2 separate regions of the Homo sapiens genome follow, and region 2 is linked to region 1. The links come from fine-mapping of genetic effects on gene expression. A gene starts in region 1. The other region holds a variant in brackets. All regions are shown on one strand. Distances are between the middles of the regions.

Evidence for each region.
Region 2: its variant is fine-mapped to the expression of MPDU1-AS1 in whole blood (INTERVAL, PIP above 0.99).

Annotation. Positions count from the first base shown.
Region 1 is chr17:7,582,409-7,585,302 of GRCh38, forward strand. It overlaps MPDU1-AS1 (MPDU1 antisense RNA 1), which reads right to left and starts at 1,684. Exons shown (of 2, transcript NR_136402.2): 1 at 1,510-1,684. MPDU1 (mannose-P-dolichol utilization defect 1) reads left to right here and starts at 1,444. Exons shown (of 7, transcript NM_004870.4): 1 at 1,444-1,557. The coding sequence starts at 1,455. RefSeq lists enhancers at 268-1,141, 1,093-1,142, 1,142-2,016, 1,253-1,782, 2,017-2,889.
Region 2 is chr17:7,560,015-7,562,908 of GRCh38, forward strand. TNFSF12-TNFSF13 (TNFSF12-TNFSF13 readthrough) reads left to right here. Exons shown (of 11, transcript NM_172089.4): 9 at 35-153; 10 at 336-474; 11 at 710-1,587. The coding sequence ends at 819. TNFSF13 (TNF superfamily member 13) reads left to right here. Exons shown (of 6, transcript NM_003808.4): 4 at 35-153; 5 at 336-474; 6 at 710-1,587. The coding sequence ends at 819. It overlaps SENP3 (SUMO specific peptidase 3), which reads left to right and starts at 1,905. Exons shown (of 11, transcript NM_015670.6): 1 at 1,905-2,249. It overlaps SENP3-EIF4A1 (SENP3-EIF4A1 readthrough (NMD candidate)), which reads left to right and starts at 1,978. Exons shown (of 22, transcript NR_037926.1): 1 at 1,978-2,249. RefSeq lists enhancers at 1,159-1,408, 2,675-2,894 and a silencer at 1,969-2,048. The variant C/T (reference allele first, on the strand shown) is at 1,082.

The sequences.
Region 1 (2,894 bases):
CATTCCCAAAGGCAGCGCCAGTGGCTCCTGAGCAATGAGAATGTCCTGTCCTGTCCACCATATTCAAGGCCAGCAGAAGAGCCCGATTAAACCCTCGCAGCACCTGGCATGCTCCTATCCCACCTACAAGGGGTTGAATCAAGAAGGAGCAGTGGGTACTCTGACCTCCACTGGGGGCTCCTGGGAACAGCATGCCCCCCACACGGGGCCACCTGCCAAGCCTAACTTCATGCCCCCAGTACTTGAGATGAGGAGTGTCACTCTCAGGACAGCCAAGGTCCAGATTCCAGAAAGGACCTCCCAGATGGCCACAGCCTGCACCAGCAGTGAGCGCCAGTCCCACCCATTACAGCTGGCTACGGCGCAATCCCTGGGAGCCAGGATGAGCAGCACCCCCCAGCCGTAGGAGCCCCAGGAGGCTTCCGGCCTCCAAGGCCCAGAGACTGCCCCACAAGGGCAGCCCTCACCTGGCAGGGCCCCAGCAGCCCCACCTCTGCCTGCAGACATCCGTGTGACCTTGTAGACTTTGGAGGGGGGCCGCCAAAGGGCTGATCCACAGCGGAATGACGCACGGGTGGGCACCGTGGGTTGGCGTCCCGGCGGTCGGTAACGAAGCACAACGCCCCCACCAGGTAGTCCAAGGTGCCCTTTCCCAAGCAGCGCTGCAGGGTCCACTCGGCCTCGCCGAAGTCTCTGCCCAGCACGTGGTGCGCCCTCGGGCCAGCGGGGAGGGGGCGAATCCCGGGACTGCCTCGCCAGGCCTCGGCTCCCCGGAGACTCTTGGGGGTCTGGGCCCCAAGGGTGATTCAGGTGCTGCCCTTCCCCGACCTGGGCTCGCCTCCCCCACCTCCTCCTCTGCTTCACTGTCCCGGGCCCAGCAGTTGCCGGCGCACTCATGCTCCGAGGCCTGAGCCAACCGGAGGCGAGACAAGCACAGGGCCCTGCGCGCAACCCGGCACCTAAGGAGGCCTGCCCGGTGCAGACTCTCCTGCTCCCACCGGCGCCCTTCCCTCTAGAGACGCTGAGAGAACGGGAGCTAGTAGCGCCCCCACCCAACGCCACCTCGGAGACTCCGGCTCCTTCTCTCTCAACTTCGAACAATACAAAGTGTGCTAGGAGAAGACAAGATGGCGCCCAGCAGGAGGAGCGGAGAAAGGCAGGGGTGTAAATCTGGCTTCCAAACTGGAAGCGTCAACAAAGGCGTGGGAGGTCTAACCGCGCAGGCGTGCAGCTTCGGCAAGCTTTACAATTCCAACAGCGCGTCCAAAACGTGGTCCCTGACTGAGACTTATTTTACGCCACTAGAGTGAGGGTGGGTAGCGTCAGAAAGAGCGGGGCACGGGGCGGGCCAGCTTCGCCGCGGGAAAAGAACGGGAGGCGGAGTGTCCGCAGCGCGCACGCGCAACGAAAGTCAATGGCGGTCTGGAGAGACTGGCGGAAGCTAGCTTTGCAATATGGCGGCCGAGGCGGACGGACCGCTTAAACGGCTGCTCGTGCCGATTCTTTTACCTGAGAAATGCTACGACCAACTTTTCGTTCAGTGGGACTTGCTTCACGGTGAGTTTTATTCAGCATCCGATCCAAGTCCTACTCGAGTGACCGTGGGCCCTTAGTCCAAGCCTTGATCGGCGACTAAGTGACGGCAGTGACTGCCGCCATGCCGAGCTGGACGGAAGTCACTTCTGAGAAGGGCGGAAGTGTCTCGGGCTCCTTAGAGGGAGGACACCATATTAGTGCCAGTGGGGAAGTCACCGGGTGGAATTACTTCTTTGTGGAGTTTGTGCTGTAGCGACAATGAAAAACGAAGAGTCAACTTTTATAAAACAAAATAAAAATTAAGTCAAATCATGCCAACCTTTATTAGATCGCTAGCAGGGTTAAACTTAATTCAAAGCCCCTGATGAATCGGGCCTTCATTGCACCCCCAAAGGCTCCGCCACCCTGATTGCTTTCTTTCCAGCCTCCAGGTTTGCTCATAGTCTGATTTCGGAATAATTTGCCTCCCTTCCTTTTTCTGATTGCGAGACAGCTCCACAAGGGTCACCGTCAGACCGTTTGGGGAGCGTCAGTCTGCCCCTGTCAGTTCATGGTACCTCTCTTGAGCTCGTGGGGCACTTTGTTTTAGCCGCATTCATGACCCGTGAGAGTCAGACTCCCACTAGACCAAGTTCCTTGAGGGGAAGGCTTCAAGGCTAGAGAAGTTGTGGATGGCCAGGGCATAAAAGCAAGCCTTGAAAGGGTAAGGTTTAGTCCCTGAGTAGGGGCCAGGGACAGTCAGAGTGTTCAAGAAAGAGTGGTATGGGGCGGGCACGGTGGCTCACGCCTGTAATCCCAGCACTTTGGGAGGCCGAAGCGGGTGGATCACCTGAGGTCAGGCGTTCGAGACCAGCCTGGCCAATAGGGCGAAACCCCGCCTCTACTAAAAATACAAAAAATTAGCCGGGCGTTGTGGCAGGCGCCTGTAATCCCAGCTACTCGGGAGGCTGAGGCAGGAGAATCGCTTAAACCCGGGAGACAGAGGTTACAGTGAGCCAAGATCGTGCCATTGCACTCCAGCCTGGGCAACAAGAGTGAAACTCCGTCTCAAAATTAAAATAAGAAAAAAAAAATGGTATGAAGACTTGTCTTTGGAGAGAGAAGACATGTGAAATGGGGCACCCATTGGCCCAGAGAAGGGAAATAAAGGATCAGAGAGCTCTTGGGCATTTCTCAGCTTTATATGGGGAAGCAATGGAGAGCCGTGGAGGTCAAGCCAAGTTTGGGTGTTAATTTATAGGGAATGGAAGATTGGATGTGGGGGGTGGTAGGCATCGGAGAAAAGCTGTTTTGGAAAGTAACAGTCTGGGGCCCGGTGCGGTAGCTCGAGCTTATAATCCCAGCACTTTAAGGAGGCT
Region 2 (2,894 bases), 22 kb before region 1:
CAAGAAGTCCTGACCGACACACTCTCACCTCCAGATGACTCCGATGTGACAGAGGTGATGTGGCAACCAGCTCTTAGGCGTGGGAGAGGCCTACAGGCCCAAGGATATGGTGTCCGAATCCAGGATGCTGGAGTTTATCTGCTGTATAGCCAGGTAACCCCAGCCACACTCTGAGCTTCACAGAGGGCCTCTTTGGCCCCCTACTGAGGGTTCCTGACCCCTCTATTCATACCAAACCCAGCAGACCCTTCTTTCTTCCCTCGTTAGCGCTCCTGAGGCCTCCCAGAACTGAGCCAGGCCATCCTGTTTTCTTCAACATCTCCCTTCCCTGCCAGGTCCTGTTTCAAGACGTGACTTTCACCATGGGTCAGGTGGTGTCTCGAGAAGGCCAAGGAAGGCAGGAGACTCTATTCCGATGTATAAGAAGTATGCCCTCCCACCCGGACCGGGCCTACAACAGCTGCTATAGCGCAGGTGAGAGCCGTGTGGGCAGCCGAAAGCAGGACGTCTCTGACCGGGGGTAGCAGTGCAGGGAGCTACCGCTAGGAGGGAGGTTGGAAACCTAAACAGAGGCGGGTCTGAGGAGTGAAGTGCAGAATGCCGGGTCCTTACAGGAGGCAGAGGAACGGTGGAGCTGGAGAAGGCAGGGGGAAACAGGGCATCTGGATGGCTGTGCTTCACTGCGAATCTACTTTCTCTCTTTTCTCAGGTGTCTTCCATTTACACCAAGGGGATATTCTGAGTGTCATAATTCCCCGGGCAAGGGCGAAACTTAACCTCTCTCCACATGGAACCTTCCTGGGGTTTGTGAAACTGTGATTGTGTTATAAAAAGTGGCTCCCAGCTTGGAAGACCAGGGTGGGTACATACTGGAGACAGCCAAGAGCTGAGTATATAAAGGAGAGGGAATGTGCAGGAACAGAGGCGTCTTCCTGGGTTTGGCTCCCCGTTCCTCACTTTTCCCTTTTCATTCCCACCCCCTAGACTTTGATTTTACGGATATCTTGCTTCTGTTCCCCATGGAGCTCCGAATTCTTGCGTGTGTGTAGATGAGGGGCGGGGGACGGGCGCCAGGCATTGT[C/T]CAGACCTGGTCGGGGCCCACTGGAAGCATCCAGAACAGCACCACCATCTAGCGGCCGCTCGAGGGAAGCACCCGCCGGTTGGCCGAAGTCCACGAAGCCGCCCTCTGCTAGGGAAAACCCCTGGTTCTCCATGCCACACCTCTCTCCAGGTGCCCTCTGCCTCTTCACCCCACAAGAAGCCTTATCCTACGTCCTTCTCTCCATCTATCGGACCCCAGTTTCCATCACTATCTCCAGAGATGTAGCTATTATGCGCCCGTCTACAGGGGGTGCCCGACGATGACGGTGCCTTCGCAGTCAAATTACTCTTCGGGTCCCAAGGTTTGGCTTTCACGCGCTCCATTGCCCCGGCGTGGCAGGCCATTCCAAGCCCTTCCGGGCTGGAACTGGTGTCGGAGGAGCCTCGGGTGTATCGTACGCCCTGGTGTTGGTGTTGCCTCACTCCTCTGAGCTCTTCTTTCTGATCAAGCCCTGCTTAAAGTTAAATAAAATAGAATGAATGATACCCCGGCTCCATTTCCCCCACTGCCTCGCCTCAGCCCGGTCCTCGTACGGGGATCTCCCGCCCTCCTGGCTCTCCTGTGGCGCGCCCCCCGCCGGATCAAGGTACTGGGGATGCCGCTAGGGTCAGGCCCGCGAGCGCGGAGAAGACAGAGCGCGGCGCAAAAGGGAAAGTGGCGGGGCCGCCACGCGCGGCCGGGCGGCGGATGTGCGCAGGCGCAGCCTCGCGTAGCGCTCTGGGCTGGCCAGTCCCGTGGCGCCGGCGTCCTCGGGTAGACGGGACCGCGCGCTTGGTGGCCGCGCCGGCGCTCTTCGCCGGGTGTGACGTACTAATCGTGCGCCACCGCTGCCGGTGGGCCCGGGGCTCGCGGGAGGGGAAGGAGGAGGGGGGGAGGAGTGGCGGCGGCGGCGGTGGCGCTGGTGGCGGCGGTGGCGGAGGTGGAGGTGGAGGTGGAAGCTGAAGCTGAAGCAGAGCCAGAGGCGGCGCGGCGGGGTGCTCGGCGGCGCGGCACGCGGCCCAGAAGCGTTGGAATCCTGAATTGAGACGGCTGCGCCTAAAGACAGCAGGAGTGGCGGGGCCGCCGCCGTCGCCGGAGAGATGAGCCGGGAAGCTTGAGGCCGGAGACGCCCGCCTTCGGGCCCGTCCGCCCGGCTTCCCCGCTCCCGGTGAGGACGCCCCCTCCCCTCCCCCCAGCCCTGCCTTGGCCTCTCCCATTCCTGGGCCTCGCTCCCACCGAACCGGGGCCCAGAGGCCCGCATAGGGGCTTCTTAAGGCCCGTGTGCGCCGAGCCATCCAAGCTCGTGGGACCGGACTGGTGCCGGGTTGCATTCTGGTCCCCGAGGATGAAGTAGGAGGGGGCTGGGCCGGCCTGGCTTGTGCGCTCCGTTCTGTCCCAGCGTCTTGATTCGGTTCTCTTTAAGTTTCCTTCAAAGTTCTTCCCCGTTTATCAGCCTCTGCCCCCTGAACCATATCCCTGGCATCTGCACTTGAGATGACCGCAGCCTTCCCATGCCCCCCGTTCATCCAGGGTGTTAGAGAACTGTCTCCCATTCCAGTCCAGTTTCCACGTGCAAGTTGCATTCTCCTCAAGTACCACGGTTATCATGTCCCTGAGGAAAGAAACTGCCCTTGTTGGGCCCTCAAAGGACAGCCCTGGTGGTATTAAAATAAAGACGTAGAACCTGGCAGTGCTATTGGGTTTGGCCTGGTGATCTTAGAAATAAGATCTCTGAGGCCTGCTGCTTAGCCATTTTCCCTTGTCTCTGGACTGGGGAGAGATGATGGCACAGACCCTGAAGGGCCCCTTGTGG